3 separate regions of the Homo sapiens genome follow, and regions 1 and 3 are each linked to region 2. The links come from fine-mapping of genetic effects on gene expression. A gene starts in region 2. Each other region holds a variant in brackets. All regions are shown on one strand. Distances are from middle to middle.

What was found. PIP is the estimated chance that this variant, and not a neighbour inherited with it, causes the effect. A credible set is the group of variants that fine-mapping cannot tell apart.
Region 1: its variant is the best candidate, but not a certain one, in a credible set for the expression of SLC41A1 in sun-exposed skin (GTEx, PIP 0.79).
Region 3: its variant is the best candidate, but not a certain one, in a credible set for the expression of SLC41A1 in skeletal muscle (FUSION, PIP 0.55).

The regions. Positions count from the first base shown.
Region 1 is chr1:205,838,467-205,842,701 of GRCh38, forward strand. It overlaps PM20D1 (peptidase M20 domain containing 1), which reads right to left. Exons shown (of 13, transcript NM_152491.5): 7 at 4,210-4,235; 8 at 3,688-3,749; 9 at 3,345-3,423; 10 at 1,786-1,857. Among named protein-coding and RNA genes, the nearest start is that of PM20D1, 9.5 kb to the right of the region's middle. The variant G/C (reference allele first, on the strand shown) is at 2,048.
Region 2 is chr1:205,810,654-205,814,888 of GRCh38, forward strand. SLC41A1 (solute carrier family 41 member 1) reads right to left here and starts at 2,545. Exons shown (of 11, transcript NM_173854.6): 1 at 2,155-2,545; 2 at 1-434. RefSeq lists silencers at 2,276-2,535, 2,676-2,905 and an enhancer at 2,339-2,839.
Region 3 is chr1:205,779,314-205,783,548 of GRCh38, forward strand. No RefSeq gene overlaps it. Among named protein-coding and RNA genes, the nearest start is that of RAB29, 5.9 kb to the left of the region's middle. The variant C/CT (reference allele first, on the strand shown) is at 2,530.

The DNA.
Region 1 (4,235 bases), 28 kb after region 2:
TCCTCTTCATTATAGCACTCATCGTGGTTTGCAATTATACATTCATTTTTAAACTGATGTTTGTAGCAGACCATTGCAAGGCTCTGGCCTCAACTCTTTTCTCTCCTAGCTCTCTGCACCTTCTTCCCATGGGCTTTTATTGAATCTAGAGGTTCCCATGATGTTAATGACACTCCAGCCTATATCTCTAGTTCATATCTCTCTCCAGACCTGAGGTATTTATAATTGCCTATTTCATATGTTATAAGCTTCTCAAACTTCCAAATTATGATATTCTTGAACTTGTTTTAATTTCTGAATTCCCAATCTTAGTCAAAGGCATTAACTACTTGGTCAACTACCCAGGTTAAAAACCTTGGAGCCATCCTGCTTTTCTCTCGCTCCATACCCATATACATACCACATCCTATTGAACCCACCTCTCTCCCACCTCTGGTGGTTGCTCTCTTCTCCACCCCACGAGCATGGCCTCAGTCCAGACCTTCACATGCACTACCTAAGATGCTGAAATAGCTCTCTGTCTCCTTCTCTTCCAGCACTCCCTCTGCAATGCTGCTAGCATGACCTCTCTAAAAGCAAATCTGAGTATTTGGTTGAAGACCTCTAAAAGTTCTCTCCTGCCACAGATTTCACAGATTAGGGCCCAAACTCCTCAGCATAGCATACAAGGCCTAGATCCCTAAACTACAACTCCATTTCCTATCAGTTTTCATCTCCTATTACTTGTCCCCAGTTTATTCTATTCGTTAAGCCACAATGAATGTCTTACTTCTAGCCAAGTTCTGTTTTTCCTCTAAGGCCCAGTTCAACATTTTAGTAGTCAGAAAAGACTTTTTTGACCCTAAGAAGTAGCATGAATTTCTTTCTTTGCAGTGGTCCTATGGCAATTTGTTCACCTCTAATTTTTATAATCATAGTTTAGGGTTGTGGCTAAAAGCACAAACTCTGGAACTAGACTGCTAGATATATAATCTTGGGTATGCTGTTTGATTGCTCTGGTACTCTGTACCTCAATTTTCACCAGTTAAATGCAGATTTAGGGTGGGTAGTTGTGAGGATTAAAATGTATGGGTATACCTTAGAAAGGTGCCAAATATGGCTGGGTGTGGTGGCTCATGTCTGTAATCCCAACCCTTTGGAAGGCCGAGGCGGGTGGCTCACAAGGTCAGGAGATCAAGACCACTCTGGCTAACACGGTGAAACACCGTCTCTACTAAAAATACAAAATACAAAAAATTACAAAAATACAAAGTACAAAAAATACAAAAAATACAAAATACTGAAAATACTAAAAATTAGCCGGGCATAGTGGCACGTGCCTATAGTCCCAGCTACTTGGGAATCTGAGGCAGGAGAATCGCTTGAACCCGGGAGGCGGAGGTTGTAGTGAGCCAAGATCGTGCCACTGCACTCCAGCCTGGGCGACAGAGCAAGACTCTGACTCAAAAAAAAAAAAAAAAAAAAAAAAAAAAGAAAGGAAGAAAGGTGCCAAATACACAGCAAGCCTACTACACTACTACATATATATAATGTTATATATAATGTTTGTTACTATAGGTATTGCTATCATTTATTCATACTCATCTTCCATTTCAGACCCCATGTTTACCCAAACCCAGGATCTCCAATCCTAATGAAGTATCCGGTGCATAGGTTGTCTTTGAAAAATGTTGGTTGAATAAATGGGACACTGGACCAGCCCTAGGACTGTAGTTAAACCCGGGCCCTGAGGGCCACATCTCCCTGATGCTGCATGAGTTGTTGTCTGGAACATATGGTACATACCTCTTGGACTGTCTGTCCAGGGTGAATCCGGAAGTTGACTGTGGCCTGGGCCACTGGGGGGATGACATTGAACTAGAGAGAGAAGCACAAAACCCTGGCTTGAGTCAACCTCAAATCTTCTACATCTGCCTGCCCAGGAAATGCTAATTTCCTCAGCTCAGGCAGAGTTGGCTGATTTGACTTAAGGACCCAAGGCTTAGCTTTTCTAGTCTGCCTCTTGTCTTCTCTGAACTAAGTGACATGTTATATTCAGAGCTGAAGG[G/C]GTGTCTCTGCTTTAAGCCAGACCTTCCTGCTTCTTGGTGCTGCAGGGGGTCACAGAGATGTTCAGAGCAAGGCTGCTTTCTCTGATCACCCAGATATCTCTGTTTTGGCCCCATGCTGTGCTATTAGAAGCCTTCTGTGTGCACTTTCTTTCCCAGCACACCCAGGACATTTCTGCAGCTGTTAACATTAGTGCTTACTCACGATGGGGCAGCCAGAGCCTCTGTTGACCCCCATCATGGCATAGCACGGGGCTCACATCAGGTTTGATCCTTGAGGGGGATGAGAAGAACACATACTCCTCACATATTCCTGGTCAGGCAGGAACAAAAGAGTGACAGAAAAGTAACCTTCAGAGTAAGAAAAGGACCCTAGTGCTGGCCAGTGCTCTGCCTGTTCTCACCTATTCCCAGCCAGTGACTGAGCCAAGACAGAGGGATCTGGCTTGTTCTCTAGGGCTGTTAGTATGTTTCTGAGACCCTAAGACCTAACATAACCTTTGGGAGCTGGTTCCCTCTTATCCTTGAGGCTGCTGAGCAATTGTTCTAACCAATCAGATAAGCCAGTCAGGCAGTAATTGCCTCCCCATTCCCGACCTTCTAGCAGGGATTGGTGGTTTCCCAGGTCCAGTTGTAAAATCTGACTTTTTTGCCTGACCAGGAGGAATCCAGGACTAACTGGAGAAAAGAGTTAGGCTATGGAGGGATTGTTCCTTGGAGGCCGGGAGACTCCCCAAGTGCATATCTTTCTTTGAACTCGTATGGTGCAAAAAAGCACTAAGTGGTCAGGGACAGAGCTGGGCTGTTGCAAATTAGCTGTTGCAACCTCTTTGTGCCTCTGTTTTCTCAACTGGGTATTGGGGCAATACTCATAGGACTCTTAGAAGGCTCAGATGGAGTAACAAAGTATCCTGGGGAGATGAAAACACCATTCAAATGTCAGGACACAGTGCTATTATTCTGATGAACACTACAGCTGACACACTGGACGGTCCAGTGAGTTATGCCAGGAATTAATTCAGAGGCATCATTCACTTATATACCCGATTACTAGAGTGCTTCAAGGTCACATTGTACTCTAGGTGAATGGTGCCCCCTGAAGTTGTGCTGGTGGTACTGGCAGTTACAAGAATGGTCTAACTCCCTTCAAGATTTCAGAAAGGCCTATGTCTTTGCGTGGCTAGGCTTGGATCCAGCTGACACACACAGAAGGAAGGAAGAGCCAGTAGATAGATTCAAGGAAGGGAGGAGTGGAGGGCGGTAGGGAAAAGCTATATGGGGAGGAACCAGGGATGTTACCTTGACCCCTGCTTTGAATATGGTGAGTGCCGTGGTGGTCCTGATTATTGCATTGGTTAAGGGATTTCTCTCCATAAACCTAAAACAAAAGGACCAAGGTCAGATGTTAGAAAGAACCAATGGGGTGAAGGAAAGGGCGGAAACATTACCCACTTTCCTGAACCTTGGGGATCTTTAAGACTGAGAGAGACGTCTTAGAGATGTCTTAAATATACACACTTAGAGATGCAGTATCTGGTGGCTGAGGGATGATTAGTCAGGCCCAGTTAAGCCAAGGAGAGGGGCCTGGGGGGTGGGTAGGTTTGAGGTGAGGGATGTGAAAAAAGGAAAGATAATACTTTACCTGCTTATAAGTGGTTCAAATAGCCATGGGTTGCTCAGGATTATATTGACAGGGAAGGGAAACTGGGAAAGAACAAGGTCAGCACCACAGGGTCACCTCTAGTTTAGCCTGGGTCTCTGAGACCTGAGTCTCTCTCTACTTTAGAGCTGCCTCAGGGGCCCTTAGCAGTCAGGAGTGCTGCTAAATTCAGTTAGCTCAATCCCTGCTAGAGGATCAGGAATAGGGAGGCAATTACTGTCTGGCTGGGCTTATCTGGTTGGTTAGAACAATTGCTTAGCAACCTCAAGGATAAGTGGGAACCAGCTCCCAAAGGGTAGATTAGGTCTTAGGGTCTCAGAAACACACTAACAGCCGTAGAGAACAAGCCAGATCCCTGTGTCTTGGCTCAGCCACTGGCTGGGAATAGGTGAGAATAGGCAGAGTGCTGGACAGTACTAGGGTCCTTTTCTTACTCTAAAGGTTACTTTTCTGTCCGTCTTTTGTTCCTAGCTGATTAGGAGTATGTGATACTTCTTCCCATACCTCATTTGCCAGTTGCTGCAATACAG
Region 2 (4,235 bases):
AAACAAGAAATTCCTCACCAGACAGCCACTAGGGGTGCAGATGCCTGACTCCAACCCACCAGCTCTGTGCTTGAAGAAAAAGTATCTGTCCTCTTATCTTCTTTGGTTCTCAGTGGCAGGCTCCTCAGAGCAGGGGGCATCCAGAGTAGAAGAGCTCAACCAAATTCTGGGGTGCCCTCTGAAGTGGCCCCTCTTCCGTAAAAAGCAGCTTGAGTTCAAATCTTTCAGAACACAGTGCCAGCCTGGGGCTGCGGCTCCTTCCCGCTCCTTTGGCTGGGCTCTGTCAGCTTCCCACAGCTCCTCAGGCTCTGCTGGTCCCAGCGCAGCGTCTGCCGTCTTTCCCTTCTCTTCCAGAAACTTCCTCCCTTCCTGGGAAGAGCTAATACCTCTTCAAATCCCTGGTCCTTAAAGTCACGAGAATCAGTGTGGAACACCTTATGTGGGAAGGAGAAAGAAAAGAAAAAGAACATTACACTATAGCAAAGGACAGCTTGTACTGGGAGAATTTCCCCCCAAGGAAGTTAGGAGTTCATCATATAGCTATAGAGTTTGCTATTTGCCTCCCTTTTTCCGCAAAAATTACTCAGTCCTGCACTGCTCCATCTGGAGGCTCAGCAGGAGCTATCCCCGCCATCCTCCCCACCAGCAACCCTCCTGAGGGATCACCACCGTGGTCACCAGCAATGAGATGTGACCAGCCTGGGATTGGGAAGATGCTGTGCAGAAGCCCTCTGCACTGTTTCCTCAGCAACTGGGGGTGGGTAGGTGTGTCCTCAGCAAGACCCCTTCTTGAATGCCCATTAAGAACCCTGCATTATTTAAGTGGGGTTCAGTTACAAATTCAGTCACAAACTCCCTGCCACACAGCCACCCCTGTATAAAGTGACTGCTTATCATCACAAGACAGCAACAGAAAGACAGCCACACAGGGCAAAGAAATAGGGAGAAACTGATTGCTGAGTGAAGTCCCCCAGACCCCAGATCGTTCTAGCTTCTGAGAAAACAAAACAAAGCTAGGAGGACTCCCTGGGCAGTGGGGCAAGCCTGCCAGACCAAGGCCAAGAGCCAGAGGCCTACCCACTCCTGCCCTTGAGAGTCAACAGTGTTACAAAGAGCTCAGACAGCTGACTCGGATCCAGGCCTCTGTCTCTCCCCGTCTCCCCCTGCTCTTGGCCCTGTGAGCTTGTCAGATAGGACAAGGGAGTTATCTCAGTTAGAAGGGACAGAGCATAAAACGATTGCTTATTACCCACGCATTTCAGTTAATTAGGCTCCTCCTGTTCCCCAGGGTTACTGAGAGTTGGATATAGTGGAATTCTTAGAAACAAAAACAAAAAAACAAAAGTAGCAATAAAAAAAACCCAAAACAAAAACCAAAGCACCGTAAGCCAATATGCACTTGCTCCAAATGCATCTCTTTAGCTGTAATGGCTCCACTTCTCTGCCTAAAGGAATCCCCAGGCTTCCTAATTCCTGATGGACTCCCATCCTATTCCATTTCACCAGAAGAGCTCTTATTCGTAAAAAATAAATTTAAAGAGAGTTCCACCAGGTAAGAGGAACAGGTCCTTAAGTATTCCAAACACACACAATTAGTCAAGTTCAGTTTAGGAAAGGAGGTATCAAACCCCAGGAACTGGCCCAGGAGAACTGTTTCCTCTATCAATTCAGTCACCCACCAGGACTCCCTTTTCCAATCTCCTTAAACACAGTACTGTGGTTCTTTCAAACTCCCTCACCAGAGATCCAGGAGGAAACCTCTGAGTCCAGTGCCCCTATGCCAGAAAAGTTTCTGAGTCCGCTAAAAGCTGACACCCCCGCCTCCCTCCTGTGTTCCTGGCAGGCCACTGAACCTGAGAGGGGGCTCCCAGGAGGGGAAGCCAGTCCTCCCTCACCACTCCCCCTGTAAAGAGACTTCAGACAGGCCTAAGGCCCTGGGACGAAAGAAGCAAAAGTGAACCAGGACGCCCTATCCCCTCCTCCCAGGCGGGGACAAAAAAGACCCATTTTAGTATCCCCAACCCCGAGGAGGGAGAGAAAGTAACTGGGTGGCCTCCTCAGTCTCTCCACCACTCAGATTCAGCAAATGCGCTGCGCGCCAGGACTGCCGCCCTCCACCACCCCCTCCCCGCCCCAGGACCCCACAGGACTGACCTGCCCCTCGCCTGGGAGGAAGGGGGGCGCCTGGCAAGTGGCAGCGTGGCCCGTGGTCTCGGGGGGTGCAGGGCACCCCCTCTTCTCATCACTCCTCCTCGACAGTCCTCCTTGGCCCCCGGCGTGCCCCCCCACACCCCCAGCCAAGGCGAGCGTCCAGCCGCGACACCCGGCTCGCTACATTTCGCTTCTGCGTTACAGCGAGGCCGCCGCTCCGCTTCCACGCGGGGGAGGTGGCCGGGGAGGGCAGGATATATCGCTTCGGGCCCGGCGGGGGGGCACCCGGACGGGGGACCGGGGAGCCGAGCTCACGCGCCCCCAATCGCTTCTTGCCCGCGGACTCGGGCCCAACTGGTTGGCTGCCGGTGGCAAACGTGATCTGGGGCAGACTGGGTGGCACCCCCCCCGCTCCATCAAAAATAGATTCTCGGATGGACAACAGCAGCAGCCAATCAGGGACTGGGGAGGGGGCGGGATCAACCTCGGCCCGGCCCCCTTCCTTCGCTTCGTGCCCAGGAGGCGGGGCGCCGGGGAAACGCAGTAGGAGGAGTGACGGGAACCGGGAGCCGGCTCCATGCGCCTGGAGCGCGCGGGTCCCAGCGCCCATCGGCCCGGGGTCCGAGGGGCCCGCTGCCCGGGCTCGCTGCGTGGTGCTACCGCCCCCGGGCCCGCTGCGCCGCGTCGGAGCCCCAGCAGACTTTGAGAGGCGTGTGCGACAGTGCGCGTCCTCTCCTGCCTCTGGATGTTTCCTTGGAGCCTCTGGCCTTCGGGAAGACCGGTAAACGTCCCTGTGGAGCCAGCCAGCCAGCCACCTCTGACCCCCGGGCTCAAGCAGCCAGCCGCGTGCTCCCTCCTCCCACTTGGTACCCGGACAGAACAGTCCCTACCTTGCTCTTCTCCCGCCGGCTCGTCACTTTAGGCTCCCTCCAGATTCCGCGTTCCTTGAGCAAATGGCTCACCCCTGACGAATCCGGCCTTAAAAAAGTCCCGGCCTTGAAAGGGGTGGAGACTGGCGGGCGGGAGCGAAAGGAGGTCAGACCCATGGCTGGGGTCGCACACGCATCACCTGAGGTCGGAGAGGAGGGGAGCCTCACTTCCTCTGACCCACTGAGCCTGGTGGCAGCGTGCGGAGAGATGTCACCATCCCGGACTAAATGAAATCCAACTTTCCCTGACGCACCTTGTGGGATCAAAGAGGGGTGTTCCCATGCTCACCTTTCGCCACTTCCTCCCTGGGGTATCTCCACCTCTCCAACACAAGCTCAATGCCAGTTCTCTTTGGGATGTTTTTGTGCAGGGGGTGTGACCTCCCTCATAAAGGAACCCCCACTCCCAAGTTTTCCCCTCTTGTCAGTGGAACCTGTGACCAACGGTTCCTTCCTGTCCTTTTCCTCCCTGAAAGTAGCCCGGGGGCATTCGAACATGGCTCTAGACCCCTGAATAGGGTTTGGAGCGGAGATGTGCCTGGGGAGAAGAGATCGCAGTGCTGTGTATGAAGCTTTGGGCACGTGCTCACAAGAGCACACACAGCAACCTGAGCAGGTCATTCCTTTTGATAAGGATGACAAATACACATACCAAACCCTGTTCCCCTCACCCACCCCAAACCAGTACCCCCAGGATGATTCCAGATCAGCTCTGGAGCATTTGCATCAAGGGCCTGCAGACTCACAGGACCTACTAGAGCAAAATATCAGTGTCTCAGACCCCAGTTTTGGCCTCAAATACTGGGTTTTTCTGCCAGGAGAAGTAGCTGCTAGTCTAGGAAATGCTGGGACTTGTCCAGAAAGATGAGGTTTGTGAATACGGGGTGTGGGGTTGGGTGGGGAATTAAGGCTGATGTATCTGGAGGAACTTTGGTTGGGCTGGAGGCAACTTCTGCCCTGTTCTATTCAACAGTTCCCTCCCCTCCACTACCCCATTTAATCTGGCCACAGCTCAGCTACCTGTGTATAAAATCTTGATCTCTCTCCTATTTCCTTTCTACCTTCCGTGTTTTTACTTACTCGAAAACTGTTCCCCTCTCCTGTGTGTATTTTTTTAATTGAAATATACCAGGCATTTAGGAAAGGAACACGAAA
Region 3 (4,235 bases), 31 kb before region 2:
TCTTAAAGGTCACCGAAGGTTCTAAAATTTTAGTGTGCATAAGCATCACCTACCTGGGGTACTTGTTAAATACCCACATTTTGATTCTGTAGGGCTAGGGGGTGACCCAGGTTAATCTGCATTTTTGACAAGTACTCATGTGATTGCTACACCACATTCCACTTTGAGAAATAGTACTTTTGAGAAATGGTGCTTCAAGGCCTGACTTAAATATCTACTTATTTATAAACATTTCCCTTATTATTGCAGCCTTTATTGGTCACCTGTAGCATTTATTTTTTTATTTTAATTTTTTAATTTTTTTTTTTTTTTTGAGACAGAGTCTCGCTCTGTCACCCAGGCTGGAGTGCAGTGGTGCGATCTGGGCTCACTGCAAGCTCCGCCTCCCGGGTTCACGCCATTCTCCTGCCTCAGCCTCCCGAGTAGCTGGGACTACAGGCGCCCGCCACCACGCCCGGCTAATTTTTTTTTTTTGTATTTTTTAGTAGAGACAGGGTTTCACTGTGTTAGCCAGGATGGTCTTGATCTCCTGACCTTGTGATCCACCCGCCTCGGCCTCCCAAAGTGCTGGGATTACAGGCGTGAGCCACCACGCCCGGCCTATCCTTTTTTTTGTTTTTGAGAGGGAGTCGCTCTCTGGTCACCCAGGCTGGAGTGCAATGGTGCTATCTTGGTTCACTGCAACCTCCGCCTCCCGGGTTCAAGTGATTCTCCTGCCTCAACCTCCCAAGTAGCTGAGATTACAGGCACGTGCCACTATGCCTTGCTAAGTTCTGTATTTTTAGTAGAGACAAGGTTTCACCGTATTGGCCAGGCTGGTCTCGAACTCCTGATCTTGTCATCTGCCTGCCTTGGCCTCCCAAAGTGCTGGGATTATAAGTGTGAGCCACTGTACCTGGCCTGTAGCATTTATATTCTATTTGCACTTTGGTCACTTAACTATGTGACCAATTTGTAACTATTTAACTTATATAAGCAACCAGCGTGTCTCGAAGAAAACAGGAAGAAGTAAATTTTTCCTTCAAAATTTTGACTTTGCTCCTGATCATCTGTGAAAGGAACTACTCTTAGCTTCCAAAATCGGAAAGGTCGGGAGTTAAGATTTAAGAGGGAAGATTAGCAAATTTCTGGTACTCCCTGAAAGACACAGTTCTCAAAGTAGTAATCATTTCTTTGATGGGGATGAGAAGTGTTTTTCTTTCTCTCTTCTCTTTTTTTTTCTTTTTTCTTTTCGTTTCTTTTCTCTTTTCTTTTCCTTCTTTTCTTTCTTTCTTCTCTTTCTTTCTCTCTCTCTCTCTCTTTCTTTTTCTTTCTTTCTTTCTCTCTTTCTCTCTTTCTTTTTTTGAGACACAGTCTCGCTTTGCTGCCCAGGCTGGAGTGCAGTGGCACAATCTCGGCTCACTGCAACCTCCATCTCCTGGGTTTAAGCGATTCTCCTGCCTCAGCCTCCCGAGTAGCTTGGATTACAGGCAGCTGCCACCACGCCCAGCTAATTTTTTTGTACTTTTAGTAGAGATGGGGTTTCACTATGTGGGCCAGGCTGGTCTTGAACTCCTGACCTCAAGTGATCCCCCTGCCTCAGCCTCCCAAAGTGCTGGGATTACAGGAATGAGCCACTGCGCCTGGCTGAAAGGTGTATTTCTTCAACACTAAATTGCATTTCTGATCTCAGTTTTTAAGAGAGACGGATATAAATAAGAGAAAGAGAACACACATTCAAGGTGCCAAACAATTGATTTGCACATATAGTGGCCCTTGAACCACTCAGGGGTTAGGAATGCCTACCTACCCTCCAGTCGAAAATTTGTGTGTCACTTTTGACTCCCCGAGAATTAACTACTAATAGCCTACTGTTGATTGGGAGTCTTACCAATAACATAAACAGCCAATTAACACATATTTTGTGTGTTATATGTATCATATACTATATTCTTACAATAAAGTAAGTTAGAGAAAATAAAATGTATTAAGAAAATCATGAGGAAGAGAAAATATATTTACTATTCATTAAGTGGAAGTGGTTCATCATAAAGGTCTTCATTCTTGGTGTTTTCATGTTGAATAGACCAAGGAGGAGGGGAAGAAAGGGGAGGGTTTGGTCTTGCTGTCTCAGGGGTGGCAGAAGAGGAAGAAAAGCCCTGTGTAAGCGCATCTGTGCAGTTCCAACCCGTGTTGTTCAAGGGTCAACTGGTATATGTTTGGAAATATAGTTTGGAAGCTGGGGAAAGGGGTCAGCCTTGCTCTGTAACTACCACACTTCCTGTATGTGTCTGCCTTTCTCTTTTCTACTTTTTACTTTCCACTTTTTATTTTGAAAAATTTCAAACCCATAGAAAAGTTAACAGTACAATGCATACTAATATGTCCTTCATCGGGATTTACCAATTACTAACATTTTGCCATATCTGCTTTGTCTCTTTGTGTGTGTGTTGAACTGTTTGAAAGTAAGTAGCAGACACTTCAAGCTTAAATACTTCAACATGCAGCTCCTAATAATAAAATTATCCTACAAAGCCAAAATACCATTAT[C/CT]TTTTTTTTTTTTTTTTTTTAAGACAGAGTCTCATTCTGACATCCAGGCTGGAGTGCAGTGGCACCATCTTGGCTCACTGCAACCTCTGCCTTCTGAGTTTAAGTAATTCTTCTGCCTCAGTCTCCCAAGCAGCTGGGACTACAGGTGCACGCTACCACACCGAGCTATTTTTAATAGAGATGGGGTTTGCCATGTTGGCCAGGCTGGTCTCGAATTCCTGGCCTCAAGTGATTTGCCTGCCTCGGCCTCCCAAAGTGCTGGGATTACAGGAGTGAGCCACCTCGCCCAGCCCAAAATACCATTGTCACATCTATGAAAATTAACCTTAATCCAATAATATCATCTAACAAACAGTTTACATTTACATCTCTCTATAGCTCCCCAATATTTTTTTCTCATTTTCTCCTCACCTGTCATCCAGAATACAATGAAGTTTCATGCATGGAATTTGGTTATTCTATTTCTTTAGTCTCTTTCAATCTTAGGAGCATGCTGTGTCCAATACAGGAGCCAGTAGCCATGTGTGGTTATTTACATTTAAATTATATAAAATCAGCTGGGCTTGGTGGCTCCTGCCTGCAATCTCAGCTACTCAGGGAGGCTGAGGCAGGAGGATGGCTTGAGGTCAGGAGTTCGAGACCAGCCTGGGCAACATAGCGAGATCCCATCTCTAAACAAATTTTTTAAAGTAATTAATTAAAATAAATAAATGTAAAGACCAGCTCATCTGTTGCCTAGCCACACTTCAAGTGCTTAGCAGCCATATTTGGCTAGCAGTTACTATATTGAACAGCACAGACATAAACTAGTTTCATCATCACAGAAAGGTCTGTTGGACAGTACTGTCTATAACAATCCCTTGCCCTTTTTTTTTTGACTTTCTTTTTAGAGTCCATGCCAGTTGTCTTACAGGAAGTCGCATATCCTGGATTGTCTGTTTATTGCCTCAAGATTTGATTTAAGAAACATTTTGGGCAAGAGCCCCACACAGAGGATGTGGTGTGCATCTTAGTATGTTGCTGATGTCAGGTAGCTATTAGTGATGCCTACACTATGAATTCAATGAACACTTGTTGAAGAAATGATCTGGTGCCAGGCAATCTCCTAAGGACTTGGGAGCTTGACTTCAAATAGGAGAGAGACAGCTTATATAATCTCCAGAGCCTCCAACATTGTCCTAGGAGCAGAGTGGAAAAATGCTTTGTAACATGAAGGGAAGACTGAAGTGACATAGCAAATGGCCCAGCAGCAGCACAGAGGAGAGGGACAGACCCAGAGAAGGGTGAGGTCAAGAGGCTACAGCTGTTCCTCAGCCCCAACCCCCAGACTCACTTCGATGATCATAACTTTTTGGCTGTTGCTTTGGGGAGGGGCAGGCAGCTTGGTGAAATGCCTGTGACCCAGCTAAGCATTCAGCTGGAAGACTTCGCAGCAAGGTGCCCAAGGAAACCCTCAGGACAGAGAGGCTGGCAAGTTCAAAGGGCAGCCTGCCAGTCATTCCTCTGCTGGCCCGTGCCAAGGGTCTAGGCCAGATTTGGGCCTGGGAGTATCTAGGGAAAACATCAAACTATAGTTTTCACTGCCTTGGTTGTCACATTTGCCTCCTTCTGTGGCTACCCTCCTTCCACCCCAAATAAAGGCCAGGGAAAGAAGACAGGAAAAAAGTGAAAACTAAAGAGAAAATTTTGCTTCAAAGAACTGGTTG